Regions from separate parts of the Homo sapiens genome. Here region 2 is linked to region 1. The links come from fine-mapping of genetic effects on gene expression. A gene starts in region 1. The other region holds a variant in brackets. All regions are shown on one strand. Distances are from middle to middle.

Region 1 (10,954 bases):
TTCCAACCCGTCTAGCCATAAAGTGGGTCATGCACAGCAGCATTCCGTCATCAAAGAGAAGTGGTATATATGTGACTGGGCTCAAGCAGATCCTGAAGGCACAAGTAAGTTTTACATGAGGAAGTGGCTCAAATGCCCATGGTCTCCACTCCTGCCACCCTGCCTCCTCTCCCCCAGCCTGCACCAATGGCCTCATGGGGAGTTCCCTGTGATCATTTGCCGCGGTTTGCCATGGTTACTACGGGACTGAACGAAGGAGGATGAATGTAGAAATGAAAACAAAAAACAAGAAACTATTTTAAAGGAAGAGCACGGGGAAGAAGAGGGCTCCCAGTTTCTAGTGAGCAAGGGCAGCCACCCTGAGCTTCTATAGCCCTTCATGTTGGGTAGAAAGATCAGGGAGCAGGAGGTAATGATTGGTCAGCTCCTTAATTGATCTCAGGTTCACATTATTGCTAACAGGCTTCATAGTTACCTAATCACAAGAAACACTTGTGCGTGGGTCGTGACTGCTCTCAGCAGTCCTTCTGGGCAGCATATGTGGTTTGTCAGTTCACCAACAACCTGCTTTTATGAGAACAGTTTGCTGTTTACTCGTATAGCCTCTGGTGGTATACTGAGTTGATCGTGACCCTCACTCTTTCGGCCTGCAACAATCATTTGACAGAGGAAGAGAAGACTAGGACCTGGCTCACAGATGCTTCTGCACGATATGCAGGCACCACCCGAAAGTGGTCAGCTGCGGCACTACAGCCCCTTTTTAGGACATGCCTGAAGGACAGCAGTGAAGGGAAGTCTTCCCAGTGGGCAGAACTTGGAGCGGTGCACCTGGTTGTGCACTTTGCATGGGAGGAGAAATGGCCAGGTGTGTGATTATGTACTGATTCATGGGCTGTAGACAATGGTTTGGCTGGATGGTCAGGGACTTGGAAGAAGCATGATTGGAAAATTGGTGACAAAGACATTTGGGGAAGAGGTATGTGGATGGACCTCTCCGAGTGGTCAAAAACGGAAGATATTTGTGTCCCCTGTGAGTGCTCACCAATGGGTGAACTCAGCAGAGGAGGATTTTAATAATCAAGTGGGTAGGATGACCTGTTCTGTGGACACCACTCAGCTTCTTTCCCCAGCCACCCCTGTCATCGCCCAGTGGGCCCATGAACAAAGTGGCCATGGTGGCAGGGATGGAGATTACACATGGAGATTCAGCAACGTAGCCCTCCACTAGCCAAGGCTGGCCTGTCTACAGCCACTGCTGAGTGCCCAATTTGGCAGCAGCAGAGACTAACACTGAGCCTCAATATGGCACCATTCCTCAGGGTGATCAGCCAGCTCCCCGGTGGCAGGTTGATTATATTGGACCTCTTCCATCCTGGAAAGGGCAGAGGTTTGTCCTCACCGGAATAGACACTTACTCCTGATGTGGGTTTGCCTATCTTGCACGCAGTGCTTCTGCCAAGACTGCCATCCATGGACTCACGGAATGCCTCATCCACCATCAGGGTGTTCCACACAGCATTGCCTCTGAGCAAGGCACTCACTTTACAGCTAAAGAAGTGTGGCAGTGGGCTCATGCTCATGGAATTCACTGATCTTACCACGTTCCCCATCATCCTGAAGCAGCTGGATTGGTAGAACGGTGGAATGGCCTTCTGAAGTCACAATTACAACACCAACTAGGTGACAATACTTTGCAGGGCTGGGACCAAGTTCTCCAGAAGGCCATGTATGCTCTGAATCAGCATCCAAGATATGATATTGTTTCTCCCTTAGCCAGGATGCACGGGTCCAGGAATCAAGGCACTCAAGTGGAAGTGGCACCACTCGCCATCACCCCTAGTGATCCACTAGCAAAATGTTTGCTTCCTGTTCCCACGACATTATGTTCTGCTGGCCTAGAGGTCTTAGTTCCAGAGGGAGGAACGCTGCCACCAGGAGACACAACTGTTCCATTAAGCTAGAAGTTAAGATTGCCACCTGGACACTCTGGGCTCCTCCTACCTTTAAGTCAACAGGCTAAGAAGGAGTTACAGTGTTGGCTGGAGTGATTGACCCAGACTCTCGAGATGAAATCAGTCTACAGCTCCACAAAGGAGGTAAGTAAGAGTATGCATAGAATTACAAAAGATCCATTAGGGCGTCTATTAATATTACCATGCCCTGTGATTAAGGTCAATGGGAAACTACAACAGCCCAATCCAGGCAGGACTACAAATCCCCCAGACACTTCAGGAATGAAGGTTTGGGTCACTCCACCAGGAAAAAAAAAAACATGAACTGCTGAGGTGCTTGCTGAAGGCAAAGGGAAATGGTGAAGGTGAAGGAGGAGCAAAGGCACCTCTTACATGGCGGCAGGCAAAGAGCATGTGCAGGGAACTGCCCTTCATAAAACCATGAGATCTCATGAGACTTATTCACTCTCATGAGAACAGCACAGGAAAACCCCACCCCCATGATTAAATTTCCTCCCACTTGGTCCCTCCCACAACACATGAGGATTACGGGAGCTAATATTATTAATACAATTCAAGATGAGATTTGGGTGGGGACACAGTCGAACTGTATCAGGCATCCTATGGGCAGGCCAGAAGTGTTGGTTACCCCTTCCACCCATGCCTTACTGGCCAGAACTCACTCATACAGCCTTACCTGATGGGGGCGGGGTGGTGGTACTGGGAAATGTGGATGCACAAACGGGTGTGACCACAGGGTACAGTGCTTGCCACACTCAGCTGACGTGTTTCTCTCCCACACACCAGGCCACTTGGAGATGCAAGACAAAGCAGCCCACCCCTGGTCCCCATCATCCCCTTGGAATCACCTTGGAAAACCCTGGATCATTTTGAAAGATGCTCATGGACGCCATCTCATTGGGGCTCATCACAGTATCAAGGTAGAAGAGGAAGCTGAGACCAGTAAGATCACATGGTGGCTGAAGGTGGTGTGGCTAGTCAGGGACAGGTCCCTTGGCCACAGAGCCACTGGCGGGTGGCAATGTGCCACGACCATGGGGTCTGGCAGAGATGGCAGTGTCCCTGGCCACAGTGTCCAGCAGCAGCATGGCAGCCGCAGCAGGGCTCTGTGGTCAGACAGGGGTGCTGCTGTGACCTGAGACTGTGGGCTCCTTTGAAGGTGGTGACCCTGCCCCTCGTGTGGAGCCCAGCTGTGCTGTGGGGCTGAGCTGTGGTGTCCTCCTCTTTCAGGATGTGGCTCTGTTTTCACTGCCTACCAGCTCTCCAGCCTTCCCCTTGGTTCTTGGAGACCTGATTTGCTTCCAATCAACCCCTTCCTACTCAGTGGCCAGCCTATTTCTCCATTTGCAACCAGCAACCCTGGCTATAACTTCTGGGGAAACTTCTGGCTATAACTTCTGAGGCACGGAGCGGGGCAGGAGCTTGCCCAGGGTCACAGCGCTCTCGGCCAGTCTGGGAGTGGCAGCCAGGCCACCTCCTCCTCCTGCAGGAAGCTTCCTCCACCTTTCAGCAGCCCTGGAGCCGCATGGAGCAGGGAAGGGAGTTGTCTACCCTCCGGCATCCTGTGTGTTCCAGGCTGTGTGGGAGCAGGTGCAGCTGCCAGGCATGGCAGGAGCCTGGGCCCGGGCCAGCACTCAGGAATGCAGCAGGGCCCTGCCTCTCCCTGTAGGGATAAGCAAGTGCCAGGCGCCCAGGGCAGCGGATGTGTCTGTGGCTACAGCCCCAACGGCCCCCGCCTCCGCACCGGCTGTCCTGGGCCAGCCCCTTGGGGGCCTGGGATGTGTGGGGAGCATGAATGGGGCTCTGTGACCCAGCAACTGTTCTGCGGAAGGCGGCTGGTGGCTGCACAGGTGACTGCGGGGGTGGGTGGGGGATGCAAAATTCTGCTTCCTGGGCCTGGTGTCCCCCGCCTTGCATGAGGCCCTGACAAGACATCACCGAAGCACCAAAGCCAACCCTTGTGGCCCACCGGAGACCTGTCTCTTGGATCACAGGGGCAGTGGGGAGGGGCGCCCAGGGCTCCCGATGCCTCTGAGCCCTGCTCTGAGGTCAGCCGATGTGGCTCAGTCCTGGCTGTGAGGCCTCACGCTGCCCTGATTCCATTTGCTCCTCAGTGCGAGGCAGACAGAGCCCAGCCTAGGGTCTGGATGGGATGAAATGAAGACGTCTCCTCCCTAACGGGACACTGTCTACCCCTTCCTTCTTCTCCCCCGAGAACCGTCAGCCCCGTGAGGATGGGGTCTAGGGTAGGGCATGTGGACGGAGCTTTGCTGTTTGTCCAGGTGCTTATCTTCTAGGGTGCCATCGCCCCTCCCCACTGCTGTTCCCGTATCTGCTGGGTGTCCCCAACCCCAGGGTGGTGGAGGCCGTCTCTCGGATGGGGCTGACACCCAAGGCACGGACCTGCCAGGTCCCCCAAAGCACATGGCCTCTCTGCAGAAGAACCTGGATGTGACATCTAATGCCCAGGCCAGAGCTTGGGGACAGCTGGACTGGAGCCACAGGGTCAAGGAGGGGGAGTCCAGAAGCGCAAAGTCCACCCAGCTGGGAGGGCTGCTGGCAGGTCCTTTACAAAGCAGGCAGCTCCTCTGCCCATCGGAGCCGGCTGGCCTAACCAGGGCCTGCTCTTGCCTGGGATGGGGGCAGAAGAGGTGGAGACCTGGGGCCCTGAGGCGGCACTGTGGGTCCTGGACCCGCCCACCTGCACTGGGGTCCCTGCAGGCTTTTAATGGGAACAGAAATGGAGGAAGAGACAGAGGCTGCCAGGGGCTCCCCGACCCCTACTGCCTGCCTGGGGAGGGGTCACCTCAGTGTGGGGGAAGCCTGGGGATGTGAGAGCATCCTAGGCCTGGGCTGCCTGTGGCCAGTCTGTTGTCCGGGTGTCTAGTGACCCCTGGGGTAGGGGCAGATGCCAGTCTGGGAAGCCGGATTGTTTGAAGACCAACTTTAAAGTTGGGAGCAGTGCCCAGAGCGGGGCCGATGTCTGCTAGGTGGTTGTCTCTGCTTTTTGAAAAAGAAGTCCCCGCCCGACCCCCGCCCCGCCAGGCGCTGGTCTGAGCGTCTGAGCCCAGATGGTGCGCTTGCTCCAGAGGGCGGGCGGCTCCAGTGGCCGCCGCGGGACGGTGGGGCCAGAGGGGCCCGTGGGGGTGGGGGAGCCGCCCGCAGGAGAAGGAGCCCCGCCCGCGCCGGCCCTGGAGTCGCCGGTGTCGCCGCCCTGCCCGCGGGCCCGCCCTCCTGGCCCAGCCCAGGGCCCTGCGAGCTATTTTGAAAGTGACCCTGGGCTGGGGCGCCGGGGCGAGCGCGGCGGCGCGGAACCATGACAGAAGATGACCGAGGCGGCGCTGGTGGAGGGCCAGGTCAAGCTGCGGGACGGCAAGAAGGTCGGGGCGCGTCGGGGGCGCGGGGGGGGGGGGCGCGGGCGCGGGCGGCGGCTCACGCTCCCCCCTGTCCCCGCAGTGGAAGAGTAGGTGGCTGGTGCTGCGGAAGCCGTCGCCCGTGGCAGGTGAGCGGGGCGGGCGGGGGACGGGGGGCGCGGGGGTAGCGACACGGGTTACCGAGGCCCGGGGCAGTAATGCCAGCTTGCCCAAAATCGCCGCCGCTGTCACCCCGCCGGGAAACCCGAGAGCCCCGTGCGGACCCGGACCCCCCGGCGCCCCTGGGAGCGCAGGTGGGGGCCCTGGACGGAAGAACCCTCTTTCCAGCAGGGCAGACTGAGGCCCGAGGGGCTGCCTGGTGGCCCTGTAGGCGGAGGGGACGCAGGCCCTGAGCCCCCCAGCAGAGCAGCAAGGGGCCCCCCAGAAGCAAAGCCCCACATACCTGAGGGTTGAGCTGTGCTTGTGGAAACGCTCAGAGCAGGGCCCCCGAACCCAGCCTCCAGGGGTGCTGCGTGGGTTAGCGCTGACCCTGGACCCCTCCCAGGCAGACGAGAGGCTGGGCTGCGGTAGGGCAGGGCAGAGTGACTGCCACATTGCTGGGGGAACAGTCCTCTGGGAGGAGGCAGGGGTCCCCCCCCAGTCCCCGCCCTGAGCCAGCACCCCAGCTTGGGGAGGGTCAGCATGGAGCCCCCAGGTCTGGCAGCCCAGGCCGCCTGCAGCGCTGGGCCTGTAGGGAGGGCTGAGCCGGGCCTGCAGCTGCTCCAGAGGACAGGTGCGGCAGAGCCGGCCAGGCCCGGGTCTGGGTGGGATGCTCGGCCTGTGTGCATGGGGGGCTGTACGCCAGGGGGCTGCCAGAGCACCCTCCAGGACGGGTGTCTGTGACTCCCAGGGAGGGTGTGGGGCAGGGATCCCTCCTGCGTCCCCTCTGCAGGGCCTCAGGTGGTCCTGGAGGAAAGCACTTCCTGCCTGCCTCCGCCTCCCCTTGCAGGGCCTGGACTGCACGCTGGTCACTTCTCCACTCAGCCCTCCGTGCCCAGACCTCCTGCCTGGAGCTGTGGGGGCACCGACAGAGCCTGGGAGGGCGTCTTTGTCCTCCGGGGCTGCAGGGGACCTGGTATAGGAAGGGATGGGGTCTGGGCAGAGTGAGAGGCCCTGCCAGGCTGGGGCGGATGACAGGCTTTAGTCAGCTGTGGCTGGGTCGGGGCCGTGGTGGGGCAGGTGATGCTTGGTGGATGGTGCTGGGCTGGAGCCGGTGCAGACCCTCCAGAGAGGCCGCATCCCAGGAAGGCACCCGGGACAGCAGCCCCCAAAGAGGAGTGTCGGGGGAGAAGTCTTTGTCCCTGTTGGAGGGATTTTCTTTCTGCATCAGACAGTCCCAGGAGGCAGGGCCTGCCAGCCTCAAGAGGGTGTGCTCCCCCGGCCGGTGAGTGCCTGAGTGGAGTGACAGGAGTTTGCAATGGGTCCCCCAGGTGGGACAATCTGTGAGTCTGTAGGTGAACATGGTGGCTCCCGAGCGTCTGCTGGGTTATCCCGTATCCTGCGCAGTTGAGATCTGCAGCCTTCTGGGGCTGGCGTGGGAGGTGATGTGGGGTAGTAGAAGGTGCCATGCCCCCTCTGGGTGGATGTTCATTCCAAGCCTTGAGGCCAGGTGTCCCTAGCACCCACTGACTCACTGGCCTGGGACCCATTGCTTTGGACACCTGCTTTCTGTGTTGGTCACTCCAGCAGCCCAGGGTTGAAACTGACACCCTGTGGGGTTGCCCAGAGGTCGGTCAGATGAGGGGATGGGACAGAGCGGAGTTCTCACGCCCACCTCCCCACCCTGACCAGGCCAGCCTGGCACCTCCTCTCCGCTCAGAGGCCCTGATGCCTCTTCCCCTGGCCCCTCATAAGCCTCCCTAGATGCTGCCCCCTTTGCCTTCACCCAGCTGCCTTCCCGCTCAGCGCTGGAGACCACCTCCCTTGTGGATGGGCCCGGCGTGGAGGGAGCAGGCCCCAGCCCTGGAGGAGCAGACAGCACAGACCCTGCGCTCCTGGTGTGAGGGAGAGAGGAAGGGTCCCGTCTGCTTCCTTGTAAGACAGGCAGGGTTCTTTTTGTTACCAGTGGTGATTTCCTTCTGGGAAGGGCCCCGATGTGCACCTTTTCCACTGGCACCTTTCTCCTCCTTGCGTTTTTCTCAATCGTGAGCACGTCTTTCTGTTATGACAAGGTTTAGCGAATGAAAGGGAAACCCTTTTATCAAAGGGCTGCTCAGCCACAGCGCCTGGCATGGCCAGTGGACGTCGGGCCGTCTGCCTCGGTGTGGGACTGCAGGGTGCCCTGCAGTGGGACCACGTTCCTCAATGTCTCCACCGCGTCCTCACTGCGGAATGCGTGTCTGCGTCCCCTCTCTGGGCAGGGCCCCGGGGGAGGAGGGTGGTCTGTGTCCAGTTGTGGCCCAGGACTCACTGCTGGTGGCCCTGCATGCCAGCGGCGCCTGGCCCAGCCCCTCTCTTCTTCCTCCCAGGTGCGGGGGCTGGGGGTGGTGAGGAAAGTGTTCTTGACATCCTGTGGAGAGTGTGGCCCCAGGCCAGACACTTGAGGGGGCCTGCTTCCCACAGGGGCTGCCCCTGGGGGCTTCATCCAGCTCAGAAAAGCCACCGGGAGGGCCCGAGTCCTGGAGCTGGCAGGGTCTTGGAGTCACCATGGTGGGGGGAAGCTGAAACTCAGAAACCCGAGGGATCTGGCCCAAGACATGGACTGCTGGGCAGAGCCCAGTTCCCCCCAGCCAGCCCAAACCTTGCCCCCCACAGCTGGCTGGAAGTTCCGCGCCTGCCCCCGGGCTGATGGCTGGGCCCTTGCTTAGTCTCCCCTATCCTTGCTCTCGGTGGGACTGAGCCCGGCCTGCAGGAGGGACCCCACGGAGACGGCGCAGGAGCCGGGAGCCCCCTGGCAGGTGCCCCGTGAGCCCCGGAGCTGCCCCACGGCTAGTGCTGTCCTGGGGCCCTGCCCTCCACAGCGCCTCCGCTAACGAGGGGCTGGGGGTGGACACTGGGTCGGCCCTTCCTGAGCAGAGCCTCCTGGTGGTGGATTTCCTGTGCGTCTGGCTCCTGCCCCAACGGACTGGGGCTGACATCCCAGCTCCGGGCTGAAGACCGGGCGTGGGTGGTGGCCAGTTATCCTCTCCCCATAGAAACATCAAGAACAGGGCGACCTTCCCTCAGCCCCCGCGTCAGGACAGGGAATCAGAGAGCTGGGGTTCAGCTCTCAGCTCCACATGTGGGAGCAGTGACCTGGGACGGCTCATTCCCCGCCTGCGTCCTCGTCTACTCACAGGGCTCTTGAGGGCAATGGAGAGGTGGGCGCGAGGGCCTGGCCCTGGCATCTGGAGCCTCGTCCTGGGCTGCCCTTGGTGATGTCTGTGGTCTGGGGGGCCCACCTGCACCACACCTCCAACACCTGTGCCGGGCAGGGGCACCCTCACGCGTTTCCTTCCCGAACCAGATTGTGAATGGGTCCGGGGCTAGGCACTGGATCTTGGTCTCGTGTGTCCTGGCTGTGGCCTGGCCCGAGGAGGCATCAGCAGGCCGGCCTGGTCGATGGCCGCCCCCCTTGCTCCTGCCCAGCTTCTGGGGGCGGCTCCAGGCTGCTGCACCCCAGCAGGGTCCCCTCAGGCGGCTACCACCTGCGTTGCTAAGGGCACAGCCTCAAGGTCACTGTGACCTCCAAAGGCTGTCCCGCAGCCACTTCTGCGGACTCCCATCGTGTTCAGTGTGGGCGGGGACCCCCCCCACTGCGTCCCCGGCCCACACATGCCCCTGCCTTCCCTGGGCCACCATGCCTGCTTGCTCCATCTTCCCTGCGGCTTCTCCCCCTCCTCCTTCTTCCCTCCCGCCCTCCCCGGCTCTCCGCCCTGGCTGTAAGGCCTTCCGTGTGCTCATGACTCCACAGTTATTTTTACATCTCCAGAAGCCTGCGTCCAACTGCCTGTGTGCATCGCCGCCCGGTGTCTGGTGGGCTTCTCAGCCTCACGTGTCCAGGGAAGACCCCCCCCCCCCACCCCAGACATCCCTCCCCAACCCAAGTCCCAGGGCTCATCCTGGATTCCTCGTTTCCCTGTGGCTGTGGAGGTGAATGCAGGGGGAGCGTGTGTGCACGTGCGTGTGTGTGTGTGAGGATGTACATGTGCACCTGTACACACCGTGGGAGCGTGTGCACGTGTGAGCAAGTGTGAGCATTTGGGTGAGTGTGTAAGAGTGAATGTGTGAGTGTGGGCTTGTGTGGCTGTCTTAGCTCAGGCGGCTCTTAGCGAATGCCACAGCCTGGGCGGCTCAGACGACAGCCAGTCACTGCTCACGGTTCTGGGGGCTGGAGGTCCAAGATCAAGGCAGCCTGGGTGTCTGGTGAGGATCCGCGTCCTGGGTGTCTCGTGAGGACCATGTCCTGCTGCATAGGTGGCGCTTTCTCTGTCCTTATATGGTGTAGGGGGAGGAAGCGCCCTGGGGCCCCCTCATCAGGTACTGGTCCCATTCTTGAGGCTCCACCCTGATGACCTCATCGCATCCCAAAGGCCCCACCACTAACCCATCGCCTTGGGGGTGAAGATTTCAACACTGGAATTTCAGATTCAGACCCCAGCACTGAGTGCATGAGTGCACGCTTCTGTGTGTGCACAAGCATGAGTGCAAGTGCATGACTGTGTCCACGTGTGTGTGCATGTGAATACCTGTGTGTGCAGGTGTGTATGCAAGTGTGTGTGTGCATGTGAATACCTGTGTGTGGGGGTGTGTGTGCACAAGTGTGTGTGTGTGCATGTGAATACCTGTGTGGGGGTGTATGTGTGCAAGTGTGTGTCCGCGTGCATGTGAATACCTGTGGGAGTGTGTGTGCACGTGTGCACATGCGTGTGAATACCTGTGTGTGCGAGTGTGTGTGAGCTCAAATGCTTGTCTGTGTGCGTGTGTCTGTGTGTGCAAGTGTGTGCCGGTGTCTGCATGGGCATGCAGCAGTGTGTGTGCCTGTGTGAATGTACATGTACGAGTGTGTGCCTGTGTGTGCATGTATGTGTGCCTCTGTGTACATGTATGAGTGTGCATGTGCGTGTGTGCGTGTATGAGTGTGTGTGACTGTGAGTGTATGTGTGTGTGCCTGTGTGAGCATGTATGAATGTGTGTGCTTGTCTGAGTGTGCGTGTATTGGTGTGTGCGTGCCTTTGTGTGTGCGTGTGTATATGCCTGTGTGTGTGCATGTATGAGTGTGTGTGCCTGTGTGCATGCCTGTGTGTGCATGTATGTCTGTGTATGTGTGTGTATGTGTGCGTGCCTGTATGTCTGCCTGTGTATGTGTCTGTGTGCGTGTGTGTGTGCATGTATGTGTGCCTGTGATCATGTATGTCTGTGTGTGCCTGTGTGTGTATGCATGGAGTGTGTGTGTGCGTGTATGTGTGTGCGCGTATGAGTGTGCATGCCTGTGTACGAGTGTGCCTGTGTATGTGTGCATGTCTGTGTGTGTATGTGTGTATGAGTGTGCGTGCTTTTGTGCACGTGTGAGTGTGGTGCCTGTATGAGTGTACGTGTGCCTGTGTATGCATGTGTGAGTGTGCGTGTATGAGTGTGTGTGCCTGTGTA
Region 2 (10,954 bases), 23 kb after region 1:
AAGGGGTGGAGGGGGGTGAAAAGGGCACTTCAGACATCTTTGAGCACGAATGGGTGTCCCGAAGGGCTGTGTAGGAGCCCTGTTGGGGGGGATAGGAGGCGTGAGGGTGGAGGAGGAGGAGGAGACAGGGCTGGGTTGTAGAGAGCTGGCTAATTGGACCAGTGTTTGTTTGCACCATTGTCTCGGAGCAGCAGGGAGCCATTGAAGGTGCTTGAGCATGGGGAGTGTTTTATATGCTAATGTTGACCCCGGGGTGCAGATGAGCTTGGAGGAAGAGGCTGGCAGGGGCCAGAGAAGGTTCTGATTGAGGTCCAGAAGATGGAGGGCGAGGCTGCCCCAGGCAGCAGCTGCCTGGTTGGGGGATGGGAACCCTGTGGATTGCAGGAATGTTAACAAGGTGGTGATGGACAAGGGGAGGAGGGCCGGCCCGGGAAGGGGGGGCCTTCTAGAGTGGTGCCCCTGGACTGGGGCTGCTTCAGGAGGGCAGAGGAGGGGTGGGAGCCAACACCCACTGCCAGGCTCCAGGCCTTCCTCCACCCGAGACCCACTAGGTGGGGCCACTCCCAAGTGTACAAGAAGCTGCCACCTTGGGGGATGGAGAGGGCTGAGGGTCATGTTATCAAGACTTCTCAGTCCTGCCCATGCCTACCTGGCATGAGCCATCCAGGACACCCTGGTCACCCCGATGTTTGTTCTCTGAGGAGCTGGGATTATGAGCACTTAAGATTCTGACATCAAGGGGCAGCCACGAGGGCACTCAAGAATATTCAGATGGAAACCATCTTAGATCTAATTGGCTCATTAAATGTCTGCGTGGAGGAGCATTTTCTTTCTCAAGCCGGTGAGTCCTGGAGTTAGTGCAACAGCTTTTTCACTGGAGACGTGTTTCTCAGGAAGCAGGTGCGTCTGTAACGTGGGTGAGGTTTGCCTGCCGCTCAGCAACCCCAGCCTCTGTCCAGAGTTGGCGCCGCCCTGAGCCCCGCAGCTCCTGGCCTTCTGCTTGTGTTCTGCTGACTCTGTCCTGCTTCTCTGCGTCTTCCATGCTCTTTCCTCTTACCCTCACGCCTCCTATCCCCCACAACAGGGCTCCTATACAGCCCTTTGGGACACCCGTTTGTGCTCAAAGATGTCTGACGTGCCCTTTTCACCCCCCTCCACCGCTTACCCTCTAACAGCTGAGCTAACTCCTATTTACCCTGCCACACCTAGCGGCTGGCGGCTGTTCCCTGGCTGGCAATTCTGTGGGCCAGGGATCTGGACGGGGCTCAGTGAGGACAGCTCATCTCTGCCCCATGAGGTGCTGCCTGGGGTCCCTCGGGCAGTGGCATTTGGCTATGGTGGGGCCCAAAGGCCCAGGAAAGCACTGTGCCGGCTGTTGGCTGGGTTGCCTCAGTTTCCCTCCAGGAACCTCACCCTCCGATAGGACACCTTGGGCTTCTCAATAGGTTCCAAGAGAGCAGAAGCTGCCAGGCCTCTGACGGTCTTGGGGCAGGGCTGGGAGAGCATCCCTCATGCCACTTTATGCCAGAGCCATCACTGGCTGGCTTCGATTCCAGGGAGGGAGTGGACCAGCCTCTGGAGAAGGAGCGGCCTCTGAGGGCAGGGATAGGGGAAACAGAGTGGCCGGCTTTGCTGCAGTCACACCTGTGTGATATAGCAAAATGGGGCAGGCCCTGTTCTCCCCCCTTTCCCCAAACACACAGGCAAACAGGAAACATGCGCACCCTGTCTTGGGGAAGGGGCAGGGGGGCGGTCAGCAGCCTCTCACCTATGTCTTTCCACCCAAGGCCGAGCACTGGGGGTCTCCTGGTTATGGGCGCTTGGGTGGACACTGAGACCACAGACGGCTTGTGCTCCCTGCCGGCAAGGTGCTCAGCCTGGCAGCCGGGACGGCAGCAGGTGGGGCTGAACCCCAGAGGAGGCGTCCGTGAGAGCACCACAGAGGGGCTGTCGGGGTCAGGGGACTGAAGGGGGCCAGAGGCCAAGAAAAGCATCATGAAAGGTGTCGTTATGTGGCCTGAGTCTGGAAAGGTCTGGGGTGTTCTAGGTGGCCAGGGGTGTGGAGGGTGGGGGTGGCAGCCTCCTGAGTGGAGATGTAGGGGTGTGGAGGGTGGGGACGGCAGCCTCCTGAGTGGAGATGTAGGGGTGTGGAGGGTGGGGACGGCAGCCTCCTGAGTGGAGATGTAGGGGTGTGGAGGGTGGGGACGGCAGCCTCCTGAGTGGAGATGTAGGGGTGTGGAGGGTGGGGACGGCAGCCTCCTGAGTGGAGATGGCAGGCAGACCTGGTGTGCAGAGGGAGCTTTGAGCATTCCCAAGACCGGGGGGGGCTGGGTGGGAGCGGGGGTGGAGCATGAACCCAGGGAGGCCCAGCGAGAGCCTAGTCGTGCGGTGTCCTGGGAGGCCATGGCCCAAGACCTTGGCAGACCAGCATTGGAGATGGGCATCTTCCTCCAGGGCCACTGATGTCAGCTCTGCTGGCATGGATGATGGGGGTGGCTGGCGAGGGTGTCGCGTGGGCACGTGGGAGCCCGAGGCTGGCGGTGGGCTGTGCTCCAGGCCTTGCCCGGTTGACCGTGTCTTCGGGGTGAGTGACGCTCCGCAGACGCCGCATGGAATGCGGGGCCGGCTCCACTCCTTCCGTAATGTGGTTTTTTATAGTCGGGGGACTCATTGTCCCGTGGCCACTGCCAGCTGTCTGTAAGCTCAGGATTAGAGAGCCTGGCCTTTCGTGAGAGCTGGGGCTGTGCCGGCTGAGCCCTTCACAGGGAGGGGTGGACCACGGGGACAGGGAGCGACTGCCTGGCACTGAGTGAGCCAGCCAGCAGACAGCATGACGGCCTTCTCCTTGCCTGCCCCCAGGGCCTGGTGCAGGCTCTCTTCTGCCCACCCTACCCAGCTTGGGGGCCCCACCCCATCACGGCCCTCATGAGCCTCTCGGGGCATCCTCCTGGATGGCATCGCAGCGGGCATTGGCCTCCCCTCCATGCCCACCTCCAATTCTGATCAGGAGCACCCCTCACCCACAGTAGGACTGGAAGCTCTATCGGGCCAGAAGGTGCACAGGGGGCCAGGGGACTTGGACTTGAGTCCACCTCGTGGCTGTGTGATGGTGGACAGGTGGCGTGCCTTCTCTGGGCCTCAGTGTCCTTTTTGCTAAAGTAGGAATGGCGCTGTCCCATGACCCGGTTTGGGGACACTACGTGGAAGGAAGCATCCACAGCACAAGGTGCCGCTCGCCCTCGTGTGCCCGGGGTGGCTGCCAAGGGGCCGGCAGCGTCGCCACGTGTCGGGGCTGGCCTGAGTTCCGTGTCCCTGGAATCTACAGCCTGTGTTCCGTGAAGGCAGAGCATGACTGGGCAGCAGGCAGCGGGGGTTCTAATGCCGAGATTTCCCTTCCCCCCAACTCCTGCCCACCCCGGCGCCTTCCCTCCTGCGTACCTTTCTTTGGGCAATGGGCAGAGGCCCCGGAGCGGGCGGGATTCCTGTGAGGTGACGCCAGCCGGAGTGTCCAGCCGGGTGCAGCCAGCCCAGTGGCCCATTCACGCGGCCGCCAGGGCTTCATTCACCCCTGGCCGGGAGGGCAGCGCCCCCGTGACTCGCAGCTGGGGCTTCTCCACGGGTGGCGGCTGCATCGCTCTGCCAGTGACGCTGGGCTGGTCCCTGGGGGCCCTCCTGCTGCTGTGGGGGTGCAGGGGTGGATGCTGGCCCCAGGATGCTGCACACGGCCTCAGGGCAGCACCCACACACTGGCAGCTCCAGCTTCCCCTGAAAGATGACCGAGGAGGTGGGGAGGACGCGGTGCTGGCCAGCAGTGACGGCTGCAGCATGTGTGGGCAGGTGCCGTGCCACACCTTTTACAAACATCTGAATGCAGCCCTCCCAACAGCCCGGGGGAAGGAAGTGTGGTCACATGGCAGCCTTCCTGGGATGTGACCCCAGCTCCAGGTGGCACAGCTCCCTTCTCCTGTGGCCTTGGAGCCCTGAGGGGACCCTACTTGATGTCTCTGGGGTCTCCTGGCTGCTTCATTTGCCCTCAAGACGGCTGTGGGGGCAGGGTCGCTGGGACCTTGGGGCAGAGGAGGGACTGATCAAGTGCCTGCTGGGTGGCAGAGCAGCCACATCCCCCCATCCCCCCAAGCAAGCCCGGAAGGCAGGTATGTGGGCGGGGGCACCCATCTGTCCAGGGCAGGGCACCCCCTCCCTCCTCCCCATGCCCTGTCGGCTGCAGGACCTAGGATGGGCGGGGCAGCACTCACCCCAGCGCCCAAGTTTGAAGGGTGCGGCGGGGTCCCTGGGGAGTCCAGAGGCTCTGGGGACCCAGCTTCACAGAGCCAGGTGGGGTGTCGGCTCTGGGCACCCGGATTCACGGGGCCAGGCGGGGTGTCGGCTCTGGGCATCTGACTTCGTGGGGCCAGGCAGGGTGTCATTGTCGGCTCTTGGTGGAGTTTGCTGCGGTTTCCTGTGTTCCTCCTCTTCAGGGTCCCCAGCCCGCCCTCGGGCC[A/G]GACTGACCTGTCTCTGTCCTTCCTCTGCAGGGGCTGGCGTCTTCTTCCTGTCCTCGGCCGAGGGGGAGCAGATCAGCTTCCTGTTCGACTGCATCGTCCGAGGCATCTCCCCCACCAAGGGCCCCTTTGGGCTGCGGCCGGTTCTACCAGGTGCGTGTGGGAGCCTGGCCGGCCGGGGAGGGTGCGCTCGGCAGGCTGTGCGACGTCCCGGGGCGGGGGGCCACAGTGATTTGTCAGCCCCAGTTAGATGGCCAGCCTCCCCACCCCCAGCTAAGGAACCAGAACCTTTCCAGGCCAGGATTGCAGCCTGGGCTTCTGCAAGCCCTGCTGAGGGATTCAGAGCAGCGGGGGCTGGGCTCGTACCTGCAGGTGCTCTCCCTCGGGGGTCCGAGCTGTTGGAACGCTTGGCCCTAGAGCTTTCTGGCTGGGACAGTCAGCCACAGCTGCCACTGTGCAGTAAGAGACCCTCTGACCCACCACCACCATCTTCCACGCCCAGGAGCAGGGAAGGCCTTGCCCGAGCTCGGTGGCCCGGGGGCAGCTGGTCTGACTCTGCAGCTGGGGTCGGGACTGGCTCTGCCTGAGCCCGGTGTTTAGGCCCAAGGCCACCTCGGGAGGTCCCCTGGCTGTGGGGTCTCAGGACACGTTGGGCTGAGGGGGTCTCGTCTTGTCTCACCCACACTTCCTTGGCTGTGGCTGCGGCACTCTCTGCAGGAGTCCTTGGCCAGGGATGTTGCTGGACCCCAGAGGGGCTCTGGTGCCTGGGCACGGTGGGGCTCCCCAGGTCGGGGCGGGTGCTGGGCCAGGTGCCTCCATGGGCTCTCTCAAATGCTCCTCTTGCTCCACGAGGGCAGCGCTTGACCCAACGTCCAAGTGAGGCCAAGGCCTAGGCCATGTGGCGGGTGAGCAGCAAGCTCACATGTGGCGCCTCCTGGCACTGGCACCCCCGCCGTGGTGTGGCGGGGAAGGGTGACTGGGAGGGCAGAGGCGAGCAGCATGTGGGGTGGGACCTGGGCCTCCCTTCTCCTGGCCACAGCCCCCAATGCCCCCTGCCCACACCAGCAAAGTCCCGTTGGGGGCAGCCCTGGGAGTGGGGAGGTGGCACCTATGGCCAGCGCCCTCCCCGCTGCCCTGCCATGCTGGATGGTGCAGCTGCACCCCTGTAGGTGTCTTCCTGCCTAGTGGATGCACCCCTGCAGGTGTCTTCCTGCCTAGTGGATGCACCCCTGCAGGTGTCTTCCTGCCTAGCGGCTGCAGGCAGGTGTGGATGGTGTGGTCAGCGTGGATGATGTGGTCGGTGTGTTTGGCTGTGCAAGGCGAGGGTGTGCAGAGTGCAGGGCGGGGACAGGGCCGGGCAGGGGCAGCAGGAGGCTGAGCAGGGCTCCCTGCTCTCTCCTGCTCCCCTCAGGCAGTTCCCGGGGAGCAGAGGGAAGCAGGGAAGCAGTACTGGGCAGAGGATGCCAGGGAGGGTTTGCCTGGGACAGCCACTAGATGGGACAGGCTCCACCGCAGGCAGCACGTGGGCCAGCCCCAGGCGGGGCCATTGCTGACAGCTGGAGGGGGTTGGGCTGACCAGAAGTCCCAGACCCCACTCCACAGGACATCTTTGTCAGAGTCAGCTGGGAGCTCTCAGAAAGCTCTGTTGTCAGGGCCTCGGCCTGCAGCTGTGCCCCCAAGCTGTGCCTCTGCAGGTGTGTGGGGGCCTCAGGCCACCCGGAGGTGGGTTGAGCTGGGACACTATGCTGGGCAGCACCCCACCAGAGAAGCCGTGGGCCCAGCCCCCGCAGGCTGGACTTACTGGAGGGTCTGGGCTGATGGGTTCGTCTGCCTGTGCTGGCAGCACACTGGAGCCCCGTGATCACAGGACTCCCACAATAGAGCCCTGCGGGCGGCATCCTCAAGCTCTGGGCTTTCTGCCGTCCTCCTGTGCTGAGCCCGCTGTGACCCACTGGAGGGGCCAAGAGATGCAGGAAGTCCAGCCCCTTGGTCTTCCGCATGTGGACACCGAGTCCCAGAGGCAGCCAGACCCACCAGGAGCAGGAGGGAAGGGCTCAGAGGTCTGGGGTCCACCATGCTCCGAGTATGGCGTGCATGTTACCTTCTTGGCCTGGCCTCCACGGGGGTGCACCGTTGCTGCACCCCATTTTGCAGACGAGGGTGAGAGGCTCAGGGGGCGTGTGGTGGAGCTGGGAGTCGATCCGTGTCTTGCTGGCCCACCAGTTACTGGACGGGAAATGGTGGGAGGTTGTGTCCTGCATCCTGACCCTGGTGTCACCGAGGGGCCACTCTCCGTCCCACCTGTGGGGCATTGGCTTTGAGGGTGGCCCTGGTCGGAATGTCCCAGGGCTGAGGGGCAGTTGTGCTGTCCTGTCACTGTGCTTGTCTTCAGCCTGGACCCTCAGTGCACCAAGGAGCCAGGACTGGTGCCTGCTGTCCTGCCCACGTGGCTGAATGTGTCTGTGAAAGTGCCAGGAGCTGCTAAGCCGTGTGGCCTGTGGGCTCCATGGCCACCAGCAGGCCGTGTCGGGAGGGACTGATGCCTGAGCTGGCACAGCCTTGGCTGCCATCGCCTTCCACCCTCCCAGGCACAGGCAGGGAGGGGACAGGAGAGAGGCTTGTGCCACCCCCATCCCTGTCCCCGGCAATGCTACAGACAGGGCCACAGGGTCTTGGGCTGGCAGGGCCCCAGGCTGACCGGGGCAGTGCCTTGGGGTGGCCATACCCAGAGGTGGGGGAGGCTCCTCCAGGCCCTTCTTGTGTTCCTGGGCCCGGTGCTGTGAGCTCTCACCTGCCCGTGGGGAGGGCCCTGTTCTGAGGTCCTGATGGGGTCTCCTGTAGTGAGCAAGGGCCCCAGCTGGGCACCTGTGTGGGCTGAAGGCATCAGCAGAGGACAGTGTCCTATCAGGGACAGGGCCTCTTCAGCCTAGATGTGAACCTGGACAGGGACACCATTGCTTTCTCTGTTTGTTTCTCCGGAGCGCTGACCATGGGGTCGGGACGTCTGGCTCCAGCCTCCGCCAGGCTGGGTTCTGTCCGCTGAGGCTCTGATCTAGGTGTCCCAGGCTGGGGACTGTACCTTCTGGTCCTCTGTGCGCTGCAGAATTTGGTGTAAACTTTTCATGCTGCCACTGCTCCTGGACTTTGGGGAGAGCAGGTCCTTGGACCTGTTTCGGCTCAGTCCTGCAGGTGCCCCCAAGGTGGGTGTCAGGAGGTGTGTTCTGGAGGCCCAGAGGAGGCCACTTGGAGCAGGACGGGGTCGGTTTGCTCTTGCGGGTGTGGCTGTGGCTTCCCTGCCAGGGAAACTCTTTGGGATGGCTGTGGCCGTGGGTGCTGTGGATGTGGAAGGGGCAGGGTCTTGAGCCCTGCTGTTTGGAGCAAGGTAGCCACTTGGCCCAGTGTTCACATCACTTAGTGCCTGGGACATCCCAGCATGGGCGGGGGCTTGGGGACCAGGGCAGTGATGCTGAGGCTCGCAGCAGCGGTGCTGAGGGGCCAGTGAGAGGTCCCACCCTGCCTGGGCAGGAAGGGGAGGTTTCCTGCCACTCAGTCGCAGAGGACACATGGACGATGAATAGAGAAGGCGAGGCTGGTGCTCCCTGGATGCAGCCCTGAGGGGAGGGGCTAGGTGGGGCCGAGGGTCCGCAGACCACCATGCTCTGAGCCTTGGGCACAGTATGAGTCTCCATCCGAGACCCCAGGGAACGGTGGGGACACTGCAAGGTGGGCGGGCATTTCCCCAGGTGGAGGGGAGCCTGTGAGAAATGGGCACCGTGAATGAGGGGCAGGCAGCCCCTCTTGCAGCGAGGCCGGCCCTGGGGATGGGGGAGGGGCTGGTCATTTTTTGGAACAGAAAATTGAAAAACTCGGTGGTGAGGAAGATGAGGAAGGAGGGGTCTGGCCGGCGTGGGGTCCTGGTGAGTGGGCAGGTGGCAGGGCCATCCACGGGCACAGGGACCCAGCTGGGCGCATGGTGGCCTGGATAGGGGTGGTGTGGGTGTCTGCGTTTGAGGGCCAGCCTCTGGGATGAGGCATCGGGAGGAGCGGGGACTCCCAGGGGACTGCCACTCCACAGAGGGGGATAACCACTGAGTCAGGCTGGGCCTGGTGCCTGCGGGCGAGGGTGGGCGGTGGTGGCCACCTCCTCCACCGAGTCTTCTCTCTGCCACAGACCCAAGTCCCCCGGGACCCTCGACTGTGGAGGAGCGTGTGGCCCAGGAAGCCCTGGAAACCCTACAGCTGGAGAAGCGGCTGAGCCTCCTCTCACATGCGGGCAGGCCGGGCAGTGGAGGTAGGGCCGGGGGCTGACCTGGGCTGTGGGACCTCGGCTAAGCCTCCAGCAGGAGAGCTCAGGAGGCATCCATGCATGTGTGGGGGCTGCAGGCTCCCTCTGCTCATTCATTCATTCCTTCTGTCTCCTGCTCATTCATTCTTCCCCCAACTCCCCGCCCCGCCCGCTACTCATTCATCCTTCCTTCCCCACCACCCTGCTCATTCCTTCCTTCTCCTCCTGCTCATTCATTCCTTCCTTCTTCCTCCTACTCATTAATTCCTTCCTCCCCCCATTCCTTTCTTCACCCCCTCATTCATTCCTTTCTTCACCCCCATTCATTCCTTTTCTCCCTGCTCATTCATTCCTTCCTTCCCCACCCTGCTCATTCATTTCTTCCTCCGCCCCCCCCACTCATTCCTTCCCCCCTCATTCATTCCTGTCTTCACCCCCTCATTCATTCCTTCCTTTTCTCCCTGCTCATTCATTCCTTCCTTCCCCACCTTGCTCATTCATTTCTTCCTCCGCCCCCCCGGCTCATTCTTGCCTTACCTCCATTCATTCCTTCCTTTTCCCCACACTCATTCATTCCTTCCTTCCCCCCACCCCCTGCTCATTCAGTCCTTCTTTCACCCCCCCCACCGCCCCGCTCATTCATTCCTTCATTTCTCTCCTGCTCATTCATTCCTTTCTTCTCCCTCTGCTCATTCATTCCTTCCTTTTCCCCCTGCTCATTCTTTCCTTCACCCCCCCGCTCATTCGTTCCTTCCTTCTCCCCCTGCTCATTCGTTTTTTCCTTCTCTCTCTGCTCATTCCTTCATTTCTTCTCTCCCTGCTCGTTCATTCCTTCCCTCTCCGCCTGCTCGTTCATTTCCCTCCTGCTCATTCATTCCTCCCTTCCCCGCATTCCTTCCTTCCTTCCCCCCTCATGCATTCCTTCATTTCCCCCCACTCATTCCTTCCTTCCTTCTTCCTCCTGCTCATTCCTTCTTTCCTTCTCCCCCGGCTCATTCATTCCTTCCTCTGCCCCCCCGCTCATTCATTCCTGCCTTCCCCCCATTCATTCCTTCCTTCCCCCCCACTCATTTCATTCCTTCATTACCCTCCTGCTCATTAATTTCTTCCTTCTCTCCTCTGCTCATTCATTCCTTCCTTCTTCCCCTGCTCATTCATTCCTTCTCCCCCTGCTCATTTCTTCATTTCCCTCCTGCTCATTCATTCCTTCCTTCTTCTTCCTGCTCATTCATTCCTTCCTTCCCCCCCATTCCTTCCTTTCTTTTCCCCCGGCTCATTCCTTCCTTCTCCCCACTCCTGCTCATTAATTCCTTCCCTCTCCCCCTGCTCGTTCATTCGTTTCTCCCTTCCCCCCATTCCTTCCTTCCTTCTTCCTCCTGCTCATTCATTCCTTCCCCCCTGCTCATTCCTTCCCCCCTGCTCATTCCTTCCTTCTCCCGCTGCTCTTTCATTCCTTCTCCCCTTGCTCATTCATTCCTTCATTCATTCCTTCCTCCGCCCCCCCGCTCATTCATTCCTGCCTTCTCCCCCTGCTCATTCATTCCTTCCTTCTTCGCCTGCTTGTTCCTTCCTTCCTCTGCTCCCCCTGCTCGTTCATTCCTTCCTGCTCACCCCAGCTTCCTTCTTTCCTTCTTCCCCTGCTCATTCATTTCTTTCTTCTCTCCCTACTCAATTTCTCTCTCACTCATTCATTCTTTCCTTGTCCCTCCGCTTATTCCTTCCTTCTGTCTGTTCATTCATTTCTTCCTTCTCCCACCTATTCATTCATTCCTTCCTTCACTTATGGTTCCACATTTACTAAACTCTGGTCTGAGGTGCTGACGGGAAAGGTGGTTCTGCCCTGAGAGCCTTTGAATCCTTTCCTGCCCACCAGCTTGTGGCTGGGGGAGACCAAGGCCCTGCATGTTGGTTTTACCTTCTGTGCCCAGACAAAAGGCTCTAAGGCAGGTGAGCTGGCTGCCCAGGAGCAGAGGCACCTCCTCAGCTGCCGGTGGCTCTGGCTCTGTTGCCATTGTGGGGAGAGGTGGTGGTGGAAGGGGCTGGCAGAGCAGGAGGGGCCGCTGTGCTCCCCGAAGGGTGGCTGCATGGGTGACCTGTGTTCCCACGGCCAAGTGCAGGAGCCGTGCTGGTCCGGCCAGTGCCCTCTGATCACTGCTTGTCCCCCAGAGGG

Evidence for each region.
Region 2: its variant is fine-mapped to the expression of DOK7 in whole blood (TOPMed, PIP above 0.99).

What each region holds. Positions count from the first base shown.
Region 1 is chr4:3,458,077-3,469,030 of GRCh38, forward strand. It overlaps DOK7 (docking protein 7), which reads left to right and starts at 5,230. Exons shown (of 7, transcript NM_173660.5): 1 at 5,230-5,353; 2 at 5,430-5,475. The coding sequence starts at 5,300. RefSeq lists enhancers at 4,008-4,855, 7,773-8,382, 9,602-10,209.
Region 2 is chr4:3,481,007-3,491,960 of GRCh38, forward strand. DOK7 (docking protein 7) reads left to right here. Exons shown (of 7, transcript NM_173660.5): 5 at 4,533-4,652; 6 at 8,671-8,790. It overlaps LOC105374355 (vegetative cell wall protein gp1-like), which reads right to left and starts at 3,831. Exons shown (of 3, transcript XR_007057994.1): 1 at 3,439-3,831. RefSeq lists enhancers at 1-712, 713-1,679, 3,382-4,581, 4,583-5,549 and a silencer at 8,706-8,815. The variant A/G (reference allele first, on the strand shown) is at 4,502.